3 separate regions of the Homo sapiens genome follow, and regions 2 and 3 are each linked to region 1. The links come from fine-mapping of genetic effects on gene expression. A gene starts in region 1. Each other region holds a variant in brackets. All regions are shown on one strand. Distances are between the middles of the regions.

Region 1 (5,314 bases):
TCTCCGCCCACCTGGAACAGATGCTCATTGCCGTGCCCTAGGGAGACTCCCGGACACAAAGGAAGCTCCCGGGTCAGGCCCTCTGGTCCCTGAGGTTTGGCACTTGCGGGTCTAGACCAACCTATGAGGCGTGCACTCAGCTTCATGTATGACCTCAGCCAAAGGCCAACAGAGAGCTGGCAACATGCCCCAGAGATGCGTAAAGCGCCTCCTGGTCACGCTGTATTCAAGGATCCTCAAAGTGGGGTCCCTGGATGCCTCCACCTCCCCTGGGACTGCGTGGGAATGCGGATTCCCGGCTCCTCCCCAGACCTGCTGGATCAGAGGTTCTGAGATTTGTAGCCCCTTAACCCACCCGCCAGGATGCCAGCGCTCACCAACGTGTGAGAATCGCTGCTCCAATTAAAACTTCAACCAGACTCCAAAAATACAAACGTGGCAGGGGGTGGATTTGAAATGGAAAGCGAAGCAAGCTCAGGAAAGAGCCAGCTCCTGCCTCTCCTCCCGCCCCCTGAGCACATGCTGGTCTCTTCCAGGCGCCAACAGTGCATGGGGCCAAAGAGATGAAACTGAAAGCTACAGTGTAGGGCCCACCGCTTGTCTTTTCATCTTCATGGCCAGGAGCTCTCAGCCCGGCTGCACGCTGGCCTCACCTGGGAGGCTTCTCCACCACCCACGCCCACCCCCGGACTCTGCAGGCTTGGGGTTCTCTGCCGGGCTTGCAGCATGGGGGAGGCCGGCTGCTATGCCCCGGGGAGGGCTGCGTGGCGCCTGCCTCCTGCGTGGGGGGCGGCCCCCATAGCGCCAGCATCTTCCTGTCTCCCGGGCACGTGGGCAGTGCCACCCTCTCCCTGACCCAGTTTGCCATCCTCTAGGAAGGGGCACGGGGGAATAGCCGCTGCCAGCGCCTTCCCTGAAATAACCTGGAAGGGCTCCACTCTGGGCCCCAGGCGGCTGCCATATGGCCACGGCACAGCCCTCGACCCCAGGCACGCCCCACCACCCCCCACTGCAGAAGGGGTGCCCGCCGGCCTTCCCCTCACACCGTGCCCCCAGGGAACCTCCGGAGCCGGTCAGACCCTGCCCATCCCACTGGGAGCTTGGGATCATGTCTCACAGGACAAGCCAAGACCCCACAGCCCAGCGGGGGATGAGTCTGAAGCTGATTCCCGGACAGCCCAGCAAGGCTGGGAGGGAGCCAGGGAGGGGCCATGTGCGTGGGGGAGGTGGTGATTTTTTAGAGCCTTCCCCCACTGTTCCCCTTAGAAACCGGGTGAGTGAGCCTGCACGCCAGCTCCCCTCCCCTGCCCACTCCTGCTCAGAGCCCAGCAGCCTGGCCTGCCGCAGGGCCCAGAGCCCGGACACCTCCTCTTCCCACCGATCTTCCATTTTCAGAGGGAGCCGCTCTCCCTCCTCTCAGGCCTGCTCCATCTGTGACATTTCCCTTCCCTGGACGAAGTGGGGTTTTCACCCTTGTGAGCAGAGTCTCCTTCAGGGCTCCTCCGTGAGAGAAATATGGGGCTGGACAGGGTCCCCTTCCCTCCCTCCTCACTCACCCTAAGAACCTCCAGGGACCCAGAGGCCACGCAGGCACGGAGCCAGCACCCCCGCCTCCCCCGGGGCCAGTGACCAGGCCGGGAGGTGAAGCAGTCCTCCCTCCCTCCGGCCAGCCGCCACCCCGACCTCAGCCAGCGTGCGCTCCCCGGGGACAGGAGGGAGGCTGCTTCCACCGAGGCCTCTGCTGACAGATGTCCGGGCCCCCACCTGGACCTACCCAGACCTAAGCTCCTGGGCGGGTGGTCCCGTACGCGCTGCCTTTCCCGGTGAAATACGGTTTCCACTGGGAGAGTCTGCCCCCGGCCAGCAGCCCGCGCACACTGCTCACACAGGCACACGCATGCACGCACACACTCTGCCGGGGAACATCTGTTTTGACAAACACATTATTCAAGTCAGTCCATGGGACGTGAATTGACAGATTCCTGGGCGCAGCCTGCGGGCTTTGTGCATTTGCACCTGAGCCGAGCTGGGGACTCTGATGTGTTTGTCCCACGTCCCCTTCCCCCCCTCCACCCCGCCCCCAAGAAGACAAGTCCAGGCCCTGAGCCGCTGCTGTCTGAGAAGCCTGGGGCGCACTCCCCAGGCGAGCGGGGCCGTGTCCATCGGGTGCCAAACTTTGCCTGGAGGGGCCTTTCTTAAAAGCCTGGGGTGGGGGCCATGACAGAGCCACAGCACCCCTGCAGCTGACACCCGGCACCCAGGAAGAAGCCCGTCAGCCCTTCCCTTCCGAGACGATCCTGAATTCCAAGCAGCACCGACATGCCAGCAGGGCGAGCCGCTGCTCCCCGCACCCAGCGCCCCCGGACCCCACGCTGAAGGGCATTCTCCATCCGCTGCAAGATAAACTTTGTCTGGGCAAAGAGTTTCCGGCTAACCCCCTGTGATCAACGCCGCTGCAGCTCGGGTGCAGAAAGGCGAGGGGAGACGGGAAGCTATTTTTAGGAGAAAAAAATAAATCTCAGCCTACCTTTAGAAGCGAGCTGTGCCAAGGCTCCGGAGGTTCACCTCGGAGACAACTGCAGTGTACTGTGTCAGATTACAAACTGGGGGCGAGACGGAGGGAGGGAGGAGGGGGAGAGGGAGAGAAGGAGGGAGGGAGGAGGGGGAGAGGGAGAGAGGGAGGGAGGGAGCAGCAGAGGGAGAGACAGGGAGCGAGAGGCAGGCAGAGGCGGCGCCCAGTCAACATTGCAGGGCATTGGTGTGTCTGCACTGCTTGCATTCAGCTAGACATGATTCATTAGTTTTCTGCAGGCAGGCAAGCAGGTCGAGAGGGAGAGAGGGAGGGAGAGAGAGGGAGAGAGAGAGGATCATCCGCCATGCAGCAGTAACCAGAGCCTCTGAAACGTCAGTGTTTGAACGCACACACACACACACACAAATACACATGCACACACACGTGCGCATACACACACCAAGATGGCTATACCCCTCACTGCCAGTTTCTTTCACAGAGCTGTGGTGAAAAGCTCGGACAGAGATGGAGGCAAACAGCTCTCAGCCATGCGGGGCTTGGGGTTGGTGCTTTTCTCTCCATCCCTGGGAAAACAGCACAGGATCTTCCCTGCAGGAGGCCGGGGGTCTCCTGCAACCGACAGGCAACCGATCAGCACATCAAAGTAAAAGCTGCCCTGGGCTCTACTCCAGGAAGCTCAGAAACTCAAGCGCCCTCAGAATTAAGTGATGAAGAGGAGCGACCCAAGCTGCCTGGGTCTTTGCTCTCCTGTCCGGCTCCCCTCCCCACCCCAAGCCTCCAGTGGCCCCGCAGATTCCCCCTTCCCACAGAACTTCAGGTGGTGGCACAGATATACCCGCTACCTAGCAACCGGGTGGTGCAGGAGGGAAAAAACCCTGGGAAACACGCACGGACTTCACACACTTGCTTCCTTCCCTGGGGTAAAAATCCCATGGCTTGTTACTGAAAGGTGCTGAATAAGATAGCTCATGCGGAGGAAAGCCCCTTTGGTATTTTGGGCTCCACATACCCTAATTGAGGCTCTGAGGGCTCCTACTAATGATGGCCCTGTGCAGGGACAAGACTCGAGTGTAGGACACGAGAATTCCAAGGAAGGGCTCACCACGGGTCCTTTGTACAAAAAGGAAGGACTTGTCCCGAGGTGCTTTCTGTTGCTTCTCCAATTAAGGCTCACTTTACAAGTTTTTTAAAAAATGGGCTCCTTAGTAAAACCAACACATCCTACCATCACCGTGGTTTTGCTTGTGATCTTAAAGGAATCGCAAAGGTCTCAAACCTAGACAGCCAGAGGAAACCTCTTCCCAAGACAACTTTTTCAACACTGTGGCAGACGGGTCCAGCGAGTTTTCCCAGTCAGGACTCATTTTGGCCTCCCGGATAGGCTTCTGAATTATATGCCTCTGAATTTGGCTGCAAGACTGGAGGCTTCTTTCAAGCCCCGTGTAGAGTGGCCCCAGCCTCTGTGCATGGAACAAAGAGATACGTGCTGTATCCAGGAGTAGGTGGCAAACCACAGATGATTCCTTTTCACCCTGCAGCAGAGTTATCAGGTCACAGAAACTACAAGACTGCAGAAAATCGTGGAAGGGACTGGTTACCAGATACTCGTACACACATGTTCACAGCTGCGCTGCTCTCAACAGCCAAAGGGTAGAAATGACACAAGTGCCCATCAATGGATGAATGGGGAAACAAAATGTGGCATATCCATACAATGCAATATTATTCAGCCAGGAAAAAGGAATGGAGTATGTGATTCCTGCTACCACATGGATGGACCTTGAGAGCACCATGCTGGGGAAAGAAGCCAGACACAAAGCCCATCTATCGTATGAGCCCATTTTTATGAAATATCCAAAATAGGCGAATTCATAGAGACAGAAAGGAGACTGGTGGTTGCTGAGGGCTAGGAGGAGAGGAGATGAGGAGTGACTCCTTACTGGAGTGGGGTTTCCTTTTGGGGTGGTGAGAACACATTGGAACAAGAGAGAGGTGGCAGTTGCACAAGACTGTGAATGTATTAAATGCCGCTGAATTGTTTACTTTAAAATGGTTAATTTTATGTGATGTGAACTTTACCTCCATAAAAACATATGAAAAGACCGTAGAAAGTGCCTGTGAATTGGGCCCCACTGACCCAGTCTGCCCCTTCCTGACTCCATCTGTGTGGCCTGGAGCAGGTCAGTCTTTTCCCACATCTGTAAAACGATCGTGTCTGCTTATCACATAATGTCTACTTCACGGGGCTCTTCTAGGGGACAAATGAAATATTTGACAGAAGGAAATAAAGCTATTCCCCCTTAGAAAGGATTCAATCTTTTAAAAGGTCATTCAGTGGCATGAAAATGACTCTCCACCTTTGTTTTCTCAGCAGAGAGGAAATTAATTGTTAAGGAATGCCATGGAACATTTAGGCCAAAAAGCCAAGGTTCGAAAACAAATAAGCTGCAAAAAATGTTTCCATTCAAAGATGCTGGGTTCTCCCCATACAGGGCCATTGCTGTCTGCACCAGCCCCACTGAGTCTCTGTCATGGCTGCACTGTCGTCTGCAGTATCCCATGTGTGTGGGGCTGCATGTCATGGGTCTCGGCGTGAGGAGCCCACTTTTTCAGCTGGACAACTTGAGACCAAAGAGTTGACTGTAGCTGCCAAGAGACACATGGTCAAATCATAGAAAGAATGCAGGGCCAGGCACAGTGGCTCATGCCTGTAATCCTAGCACTTTGGGAGGCCAGAGTGGGAGGATCACTTGAGCCTCGTAGTTCAAGACCAGCCTGGAC
Region 2 (5,314 bases), 25 kb after region 1:
TGGAATGTGGATGTGATGGCTGGAGCTTCAGCCACCATACTGGCCTATGAGGTCACCTTAAGAATGGAGTCTTCACATGAGGATGATAAAGCAAAAAGATAAAAGCTCAGTCCCTCTTGGAGCTGCCAAACTAGCTTCTGGAATTTTTTTTTTTTTTTTTTTTTTTTTTAGACAAGGTTTCACTCTGGTTGCCCCAGCTAGAGTGCAATGACATGATCTTTGTTCACTGCAGCCTCCACCTCCTGGGCTCAAGCGATTCTCCTGCCTCAGCCTCCCAAGTAGCTGGGATTACAAGTGTGTATCACTGCGCCCAGCTAATGTTTGTATTTTTTGTAGAGACAGGGTTTCACCATGTGGACCAGGCTGGTCTTGAACTCCTCAGCTCAGATGATCTGCCCACCTCAGCCCTAGATTTCTGTTACATGAGAAAGGAGTAAACGTCTATGTCTAAGCCACTATTATTTTTGCCTGTAGAAGCAGCTGCGCCCAGGCCTAACTGGCACAGCTGGATTATTCAGCAAACCCAGAGACTAACACGTCCTCCAGGATAACTATGACCTTACAGTGCCCTTGAACTGATTCCACAAGTCAGCCTGCAGCCTGAGGTGGAACTGAGCCTGTATACATTTTGGTCCACCCAATTTTTAAACTGAATTTGATGGCAAGATTTAAAAATCTGGGGGTTGCACACGCAATTCCAGATTTCTGACTTCTCTTGAAAAACCAGATCTAGGGACACTGGCCCTCTGCCCTCAGGCCAGCAGTTGGCAGCCTCTGGGCAGGGGGTGCCCACTGTCCTTGGGCCCTCCGCTCCCCTGCCCACCCCAGCATCCTCTGTCTGGCTTCACCCGCTTGTTCGTCCCTCCCACCCTGGAAGGGTGTGAGTGTGTGAGCCCCAAGTCGCACAACTTAAAGTTGGTGACACCTGCCAGGCATAAGGATAGACCACAGATACAGCATGAGAGGGAAAGCAGGGCGTGAGAGACGGCCAGTGACCCCATCCCCGCAGAGGGGCCCCCACGGGAGGAAGCCCAGGAGAGGGCCCTTTGGGGACACTTGGTTCCACCTGACACCGAGCGGCTTCAGCTCAGTGACTCCAGTTTGACCTTTCCCCCTAAGAGGGTCCCCTCCACGGTCTGGGTGCTCCCAGTGCTCTGGTAAAGAGAAGGTTCTCTTGCGATGAGAAAGTCTGTATTTGGATTTTTTAATGGAATCAGGCAAACTTTTGCTGGACTATTTCCAAAACCCCAAAATCAGGGCTGCAAAACATGAGCATGAAACATCCACTTCAACTTTTTAAAATACGTATCAATCCTCTTTGCAAAGGAAAAAAAAACAGAATACACAGAGATGGCTTGAGATGTGGGTCTCCAGCACCCCCACATCCTTCCCCGATAGACAGATTCCTACAGAGTCCACATATATACGTCTCCCCAGATACGTTCCTACATGTGCTCACGCTGCATGTTTCCGCCAGTGCCGGACATCTTCACGTTGTGTGTTTCACTGGCTGACACCCCTGCCCCATTGGCTGGAAATCCAGGAGCAAGAACCCCACTGCTGGTCAAGCCTGTGTGGCAGCTATCACACAGAAGGTTGACTATCTCAATCTAGTCCCACTGTGGGAATTGCCCACAAACCTCCCTCTCTGAGAAAATAAACTAACAGATTGTCTCCAACCAACCCCCAAGCCTAGAACACTCATTCCCCTCGGCTGCTGACTTGCTGGCGCCCACCCGAAACACCCTGGGACTAGAAGCCTGGGCTCTTGTGCCACCAAGAACCGGCTGTGGGTGCAACACTTTGATCCAGAAGTGTCCTGGCCGATCCAGGTTATGTTGCCCAATCTGCACAACCAGACAGAGCTAAACAAACTAAGCAAAGAGCCACATCCTTCTGAAGCGCTGGGTTCCCTGGAGTGTGCCTTACAATGATGAAAATTCTCTTCTTGGAGTGTGGCTAATTGAGGCACTAAATATAAACATCCTGATTTGGTGAATTTTCCTTTTGGGATTTAGCATCCTATGGCTGCAAGAGATAGGAATTCTAGAAAATGATTCCCTAATTGTCAAGACCTCACAAAGAGGTGGAAAAGAAACATCATCTCACGGTCAAGCGGAACCCATAAATGCGGGGAGGCGGGAGGCAGAAGCAGGGAGTGGGGCTCGTGGGAACTGGAGGAGCCCATGCCCACCAAAAATAACTCAGATTAATTTAAAACTGTACAAGACAAACAAAACCCATGTGTGTCAGCTCTTGGTTGAGGTCCTTCTTTATAATAATTTTGATATAGTTTGGCTGTTCCCCACCCAAATCTCATCTTGAACTGTAGCTCCCACAATTCCCACATGTTGTGGGAGGGACCCAGTTGGAGATGACGGAATCATGTGGGCGGTTTTCCCCATACTGTTCTTGTGGGAGTGAACGAGTCTCACGAGAGCTGATCTTTCTCTCTTGCCTGCCGCCATGTAAGACATGCCTTTGCTTCTCCTGGCCTTCTGCAATGATTGTGAGGCCTCCCCAGCCAGGTGGAACTATGAGTCCATTAAACCTCTTTCCTTTGTAAATTGCCCAGTCTCGAGTATGTGTTTATTAGCAGCATGAGAAAAGACTAATACAAGTTTCTAGAGGAAAACCTCTTGACACAGGCAAAGGGGACTTGGCCGTTCTAAGCCCAGTTGATGTCAGCGCCCTTGAGATCATACAACAGGCTGCTGCACAATTTGATTCCTTCATTGCAAATTTATGTGCCAGCAATTAAGACCCTAAAGCTTCTAGGTCAGAGGCTAGAGAGTAGAAATATCACCCCTAAGGAGGAATTCTGAGTTTTCAGGGCCAAACAAGTTGACTGTGGCATAAGGTGCAGATCAGTAGACTATGGCCCATGAACCAATTCTGGCCCACCGCTTGTTTTTATAAATGAAGTTTTAATGGAACGCTGTCACAGCTAATTGCTTACATATTCTCCATGGCAGCTTCTGCACTCTTATGGCAA[G/A]GTTAACTAGTAGTGACAGAGACTATAAGGCCAGCTGAGCCTAAAATATTTACTGTCTCATTCTTTACAGAAAACGTTTGCTGTTCCCTGGTCAAATGTTTTGTTTGTTTTTGGTCAAAGTTTTTTCCAAACATTTTGATCATATACATATATTTAGCATACCTCTACTGGCAGGAATGATCAAAGATTTCTAAATTTTAGATATCCCTACTGGTAAAAAAGCTATGGGGGCTGCACCTCTAATATATGGGTGAAATACCAGATATTTACACAGCTTCAAAGCATCTCCCCATGAACTATTTATTAATTACAAAGGGGAAACCAGTAGCCTCAGAGTGGGAAATCTATAACAGACACTACCTGAACCAGGCGACCAAAGTCAACATCACCAGCAGCGGGACCGACCAAAGTCCTGCGCGTCCTGATAGGGATACTGAGGCCAGGACGTCACTTCCACAGTAACTTATCTACATATCATGGGCCTGCCAAGGACGCACAACTAAACCAAATCATGACGAAACACCAAGCAAACCCAAACCCAGGGACGGCCTGCAGAGTAACTTGCTATACTCTTCAATCGGGTCAAAGAGACGGGGACTGCTCCAGATGGAAGGAGACTGGAACACGTGGCCAACACATGCAGTGTGAGATCCTGGGTCGGCCTCTGGACTGGGAAACAAAGTGGCCATTAGGAAGTTATTGGGGCAGTTGATCAAATGAGAATAGGGACTGCAGATTAGGTCATAGTATTGTATCAGTATTAGATTTTCAGATTTTGAACTTTGTATTGTGGTGGTATAAGAGAATCTCCTTGTTTTTAGAAAAAAACACACTGAAATATTAAGGATAAAGGATAAGATATCTGAATTTACTTTCAAATAGATAATTCTGGGGGAAAATCTCTTTCCTCTATTTCCCTCTCTTCTCTCTGTATGGATAGCAGACGATAGAGGGATGACAGATAGAAGATGGATAGATAGATAATTGATAGGTAATAAGGTAATAGATAGGTGATAGGTAGACAGATGATAGATAATAGCCAGATGATAGATAATAGATGATCAATAGATTGATAGATGATTAATAGATATAGATAGATAGATAGATAGATAGATAGATAGATAGATAGATAGATACCAAGAAACCAATGATAAAAAATTGGGGCAAAATATAAACAGTTTAATAATTCTGGATAAAGGTTTGAAGGAGTTATTTACACTATTCTTGCTGCTTTTCTGCATTAAATTATATCAAAATAATAAAAGTTTTTTAAGGCAGTAGAAAAATCTCTAAATCATCCCAAAGACAGAGAAAGCTCTTTTCTTTGTGTCATTCCTGGGGGCCATGCTCTCCAGGCTCATTTATCTACAGGCCAGTAATGCAAAGGGCATTTACTCTGAGCTACCTGAACACCGACCCCACCCCAGGCCCTCACTGTTCACCTCCAGTAGACTGATTTCTGGGTGTCTGTCCAGACTGGCATCCCTGGGCACCTGCTGGAGGGGCTGGGATTCTCTGTGGCACTGATGACCTTTGGATTTGGTGGAGAGAACCCTTGCAGAGGGCATCGCCCTCTCCCTGGTGAGGTACAGGGTGAACAGTTCTCCTAAACAGAAGAGGAGAAAGTCATTAGGCAAAACTCAGTACCCCTAATGGGACAGATACTGCTAATGCTTTCTGATATCCATTCACCCCTTTTCCTATATAAACAGAAATATACTGATTAATTCAGGGTGGCAGTGAACCCTGATTCTGCTGGAGCAACAGGTAGCTGTGTTACACTCTTCTGGCCAATGAGGTCTAAGCAAAAATCTGACGGGCATAGAGAGGAGAGAGTTCTGGGAAAGTGCTGGCTTTCCTTATAAGAGGAAACAAATGAAATTAGTGTTATCCCTCATTCCTCATTCTCCTGCTTCCCATTCTGAATTCAGATGTGATGGCTGGAGCTGTGGCAGCCATCCTTCAACCACGAGGCAAAGGCCCAGAGAATCATAAGAACGACAGCCAGGCATCCTCGATGCATTGAATCCTTGCTCTCAGTTGACCATATTCAAACCCCTCCTCTTGTGAGAAAAACAAAGCCCTATGTGTTAAGCCACTGTTAGCCATGTATTCTATTGCTTTGCTCAAACCCATTTTAAACGAATGTAACAATTTTCTTCCTTTTCATTTTAAGCTCCAGATATAGTTGTAGTAAAATAGACCGCACTATATTTTCTTAGGGTTTCTTCCTGTCCTTCTCCCCACAAGGTAGTTTTCAGTTAAAATATGAGCAGCTCTTAGGCCCTAATTCAGGTGACATTCCCACTGGGGGAAGGC
Region 3 (5,314 bases), 220 kb before region 1:
ATTAGCCAAATGTGGTGGCAAACACCTGTAGTCCCAGCTATTCAGGGGACTGGGGCTCAGGCAGGAGGATGGCTTGGGCGCAGGAGGCGGAGGCTGCAGTGAGCCTAGATAACGCACTGCACTCCAGCCTGGGTGAGAGAGTGAGATCGTAGCTCAAAAAACCAAAACAAAACAAAAAAACAAAGTGACCTGCACAGGAATTAAGTTTCATGTAAATATCACTAAGTTTTATTTAGGTCTGCCACTCGATTTGGCTTCTGTTAGTTCCCTCCCATTTTCATTATTTGATCTCCCCTTTCCTGCCTTCTTTTTGTTTTTTGTTGTTTCTTTTTGTTCGTTTTGTTTTGTTTTTGAGATGGAATCTCGCTCTGTTGCCCAGGCTGGAGTGCAATGGCGTGATCTCGGCTCACTGCAACCTCCACCTCCTGAGTTCAAGCAATTCTCATGCTTCAGCTTCCTGAGTAGCTGGGATTACAGGCGTGTACCACCACGCCTGGTTAATTTTTGTATTTTTAGTAGAGACGGGGTTTCAGCATGTTGGCCAGGCTGGTCTCAAACTCCTGACCTCAGGTGATCTGCCTGCCTCAACCTCCCAAAGTGCTGGGATTCCAGGCGGGAGCCACCATGCCCAGCCTGGTTTTCAATTTTAATGTCTCCATGGAGTGCTGTTCTGTATGTTTTTATGTCACTCCTAGTGGTTGCCCCAGGGAACTCAATATACATATTTAAATTTAAACAATCTACTCAGAATTAAAACTTGCCATTCCAAGTGGAATTCTTACATGCTCCATCTATATACCTGAAACCCCATCACAGTGTTCTACATTTTCGTTGAAGTGTCATTTATGTACATGAAAGAGTCTACCAGGAGAAAAACAGCCTGGTCTAGCCTGTTACATTTACCCGGATATCCGCCCTTTCTGTTTCTCTCCTCTGTCCAGTGTTTCCTGAGCACCAACTACGTCCAGGTGGCCCGACAGGCACTGGAGACACAGTGGACACAAAGCTGAGAGGCCCTGGCTTGTGTGGGGCTGACATCCCAGTGGGAAAGACAAGCGTTGATCGGGTGAGGATATAAAAATGCAAGCTTGTGATGCATGGGTAAACTGAGGCTCACGGAGATGACTCAGCCCCTTGTGAGTACATCCCACACTCTGGGACAGAGCGCTCATTCTGTATCACTGCGCTGGGGACAGGGACAGAGCGGTTCAGAAGGACAGACCCCGCCCTGGCCCTCCTGGAGCCCACTCCACACCCCAGCAAGCATCAGGCCTAGAAGTTGGCACCTCCCCGCCACCACGGTTCTCCCTGCACTGCTCTGCCCCCGCCTCCACAGTCTCACGGTAAGATGGTGGATGCAAACGTGCTTTGAAAGATGCAAAGCACAGTGGCTCATACCTGTAATCCCAGCACTTTAGGAGGCCAAGGCAGGCAGATCACCCGAGGTCAAGAGTTCGAGACCAGCCTGGCCAACATGCTGAAACCCCGTCTCTACTCAAAATACAAAAATTAGCCAGGCATGGTGGCAGGCACCTGTAATCCCAGCTACTCAGGAAGCTGAAGAGGGAGAATCGCTTGAACCCAGGAGGCAGAGTTTGCAGTGAACTGAGATTGCCCCACTGCACTCCAGCCTGGGCAACAGAGTGAAACCCTGTCTCAAAAAAAAAAAAAGAAAGAAAAGAAAAGAAAGAGCAAAGTAGGAGTCAGGTAACCCACGGAGGCCTCCAGGACCCTGCACTCCAGCCCTGTGTGCTGGTTACTCAGGACACACCCTCTTCCCTGCTGTCCAGAGCACTTGGCCTTATGTGGGAAAAGGATGCATTTGTGACCGCTGGGTCACAAAGTACCACAACTGGCACTTCTGCTTAAGACAATGGAAAGTGTCCTCTCACAGCCCTGGAGCACAGAAGGCTGAAATCCAGGTGTCGGCAGGGCCGGATCCTCTCGTGGAACCTCTGAGGGAGAAGCCGCCCCATGCCCCGCTCCAGCTGCTGGCGTGGCCACGATGCTTGGTGATCTTTGACCAGAAGACACCTCACTCCCATCCCCTTGGGTGTCTCTGTGCCTCTTCTTCTTATAAGGACAACAGTCCTTGGGTTTAGGGCCTGCCCTACTCCAAGATGACCTTATATTAATGACATCTGGACAGACTCATTTTCAAATAAGGTCATATTCACAGATACATAGATTTAGGACTTGGGCGTCATTTGGGGGAACACAGCTGGCCCTCTACATGCCCTGAAAT[G/A]ATGAGGGGGGCTGCTTCACTTGCTCCCCATCTGCCTGGATTCATGCCTCTGGACACCTGCCCCAGACCAAGCCATCAGCCACGCTGGTACATGCCCTAGTGGCTCCCGCCTCAGTGCTGCCCGTTGTCTCCTCTTGCCCCTGTGAGATTTCCCCAGGGATGTTGCTTGGTCAGGCCACTGTCATCACGTGGGCCTCAGCTGAAGTGTCACCCCCTAACAGACATGTGCAGGGTGCCCTGCGCTCCCCTCTCCCTCCAGGTCACCCTGGCTCATCACCGTCTTCCTCCGTCTCTGAAATTCTTATCTATTTGCTGGATGACCTGATTTTTTTTCTGAGCTCCTCCCACCCCAGTAGAAGGTAAGTTTCATGAAAACAAAAATAACCTTGGACTTGCTCCTCGTTTTACTCCAAGCATCTGGCATGGTACCTGGCTATCCTTCTGTCTATTCTAGTAGATTCCTTTGAGGGTGTATATCAATGAAATTGCTCACGGTATTAGCAATTCTTGATCACTAACCTCTCCAGCACCAGCCACTATGTTAGATCACTGGGCACATTCTATGCTTTGAACCCTTACATCTAGAAAGGTACTTTATGGCCACTTTAAAGATGAGAGAACACCCCGGTTCTCAGAAATTAGTTAGCTTGATCACACGTAAACAACTAGTTAATCATCAAATTCAAATTTGAACTCAGACTGGTCTAACTAAAAGCCCAAAGTCTTTGAATTAGGTCATGCTACTGAGATCAACGGGAACGTCCCCCTAGGGTGGGTGATGATTCTGCCGCTGACTCATTGGACCTAAACTGTAAAGCATTGTGGACCACGGCAGAGAGTACGTCCGTGCCTGTAGCCATGTGATACGGTTTGGCTGTGCCCCACCCAAATCTCATCTTGAATAGTAACTCCAGTAATTCCCATGTCTTGTGGGAGGGACCTGGTGGGAGATAATTGGATCATGGGGGCGGTGTCCCCCACACTGTTCTGTGGTAGTTAATAAATCTCACAAGATCTGAAGGTTTTATCAGTGGAAACCCCTTTCTCTTGATTCTCATTCCCTTCTCTTCTCTTGCCTGCTCCCACGTGACACATGACTTTCACCTACCACCATGATTGTGAGGCCTCCCCAGCCACATAGAATGGTGAGTCCATTAAACCTCTTTCCTGTATAAATTACCCAGTCTCGAGTATGTCTTTATTAGCAGCATGAAAAAGGACTAAACCACCATCTCACTGTCCTCACTCCGGTCTCAGCAGCCCTGCTGAGCAGCTCTGGGGTAGAGGAGGCTGCGAGGGGTGAGGCTCCATCCACTTCCTGCAGGAGGGATGCTTCTGTCCACGGGAGACCAGCACACAGTGATACCTCATGAAAGGCCACGTTCCCATCACCCTGAGCCCCCTTCTATGTCGGGCCCCCAGCAGCTATGGCGCTGGGCAGGCCCGCTCCCCAGAAAGTGACCACATGATGGTTTCCTGCCTGTGATGGCCTCCTTCAGGCACACCTTTCTCTCACCTGCAGGCCACCCAGAGGAGCCAAGGAGGACCGCACACTTCTCTGCACACTGGGACTGCTGTCCTCTCCCTGAGGAGTGGGACCCTCAAGTTGTTCTGCCCAGGCCATCAGACCATGACTGCCCCGATGTCACTGAGCAGAGTACAGAGAGACTGGGATGTGTATACACTGGGGGCTTAAAACAACAGCAACCCATCCTCTCATGCCCTGGAGGCCGGAAGTCTTCAGTCGAGGTGTGGACAGGGCCATGTACCCTCCGAAAGCTCCAGGGCAGGCTCTTCCCCATCTTGCCAGGCTCCTGGGCGCTCCATGGCTCTGATCTCTGCCTCCATCCACACGTGGCTTCCTCCCTGAGCGTCTGTGTCTCTATCCAAACTCCCCTCTCCTTTCTTTCCAAAGCCTGTCACTGAACGAGGGCCCTCCCTGATGTGCGACCGCACCTTCACCTAGTTACATCTCCAAACACACTATTTCCAAATTAGGCCCCGCGCCCCAGTTCTGGGTGGACATGACTGTGGGGAGGCTGATTGAATCTACCCCTCTGTCCAGAAGCTTCTCACCTGCCTTCTGCTCCCTGGGCTCCGTAATCACTGATTCTGCTCACAGCCTCTGGTGGGTCCACCAGTCCCTGCCTCTAACTGCTTCTAGATTGAGCTCTCTGAATCTAGAAACCTTGTGAGTGTGAAGTTAAACCGTCCTTCCCTGCCAGGACTCTAAAATAAAAGCAGCTGTCGCTCTACCGCATCCGACGAACAGAACTGTCTCACGGGCCATGGGAGAAGGGGCTGGAGAGATGCGTTCTGGCCGTGGCTGTGAGCGAAGCACCACCGGTTGCAGTCCCTTTACCCAGGAGCTGGGGAGAGGCTGAGGACCCAGAATGTCTTGTGTATCAGGCAGTAGAAACTCACATGAAAAACACATGAGGCTTTTTTTGTTTTGTTTTTTTGCAGTGAGTAAAAAAGCCCAATGCGTTTTTTATTTGAATCTGAGAAGCTGGAGAATAAAAAGCATTTTGTTTATTTTATCACAATGCACTCACTTCTGACAGGCACCCTGCTTCAGAGGAGTGCTGGGTGTTTTGATCAGACTCCTGTGCCAGGACCTAAGAGGAGGACTGACTCTGGGTTAAATGCAACAAGGAGTGCGCGGTGGGGAGATCCTTGTCTGACACCAGCCTGGGCTGAGGAGATGCCGGAAATCACCAACTCTCCTGTGTTTATTCCCCTTGGAGAGTCTCTGTCTATTCCAGAAAGGAACTGCAGATTGATCTGTAGATGTGACTTTATACAGTCACCTGTGAGCCCCAGAGAAGCACCTCTGCAGAGAAGCACCCTGACTCCAGGCCTCCTGCTGCTCGGTCATTCTCCATGAAGGCAGCACTGACTCCAGGCCTCCGGCTGCCCCGTCATTCTCCATGAAGGCAGCACTGACTCCAGGCCTCCGGCTGCCCAGTCATTCTCCATGAAGGCAGCACTGACTCCAGGCCTCTGGCTGCTTAGTCATTCTCCATGAAGGCAGCAAGTGTCTGCAGTGCCGGTCGGTTCAGCGAGGCA

Alleles and levels. Positions count from the first base shown, and alleles are read on the strand shown. Sizes are in standard deviations (SD) of each study's normalised expression. Not every link is listed here.
With allele G in place of A in region 3, the expression in B cells of the gene that starts at base 2,605 in region 1 is lower (moderate effect, 0.64 SD a copy in Fairfax 2012).

Evidence for each region. PIP is the estimated chance that this variant, and not a neighbour inherited with it, causes the effect. A credible set is the group of variants that fine-mapping cannot tell apart.
Region 2: its variant is the best candidate, but not a certain one, in a credible set for the expression of RIMBP2 in liver (GTEx, PIP 0.72).
Region 3: its variant is the best candidate, but not a certain one, in a credible set for the expression of RIMBP2 in B cells (Fairfax 2012, PIP 0.51).

What each region holds. Positions count from the first base shown.
Region 1 is chr12:130,713,695-130,719,008 of GRCh38, forward strand. RIMBP2 (RIMS binding protein 2) reads right to left here and starts at 2,605. Exons shown (of 23, transcript NM_001393629.1): 1 at 2,528-2,605.
Region 2 is chr12:130,738,863-130,744,176 of GRCh38, forward strand. No RefSeq gene overlaps it. Among named protein-coding and RNA genes, the nearest start is that of RIMBP2, 25 kb to the left of the region's middle. The variant G/A (reference allele first, on the strand shown) is at 2,996.
Region 3 is chr12:130,492,981-130,498,294 of GRCh38, forward strand. All of the region lies in intron 4 of RIMBP2 (RIMS binding protein 2), which reads right to left. Among named protein-coding and RNA genes, the nearest start is that of PIWIL1, 160 kb to the left of the region's middle. The variant G/A (reference allele first, on the strand shown) is at 2,246.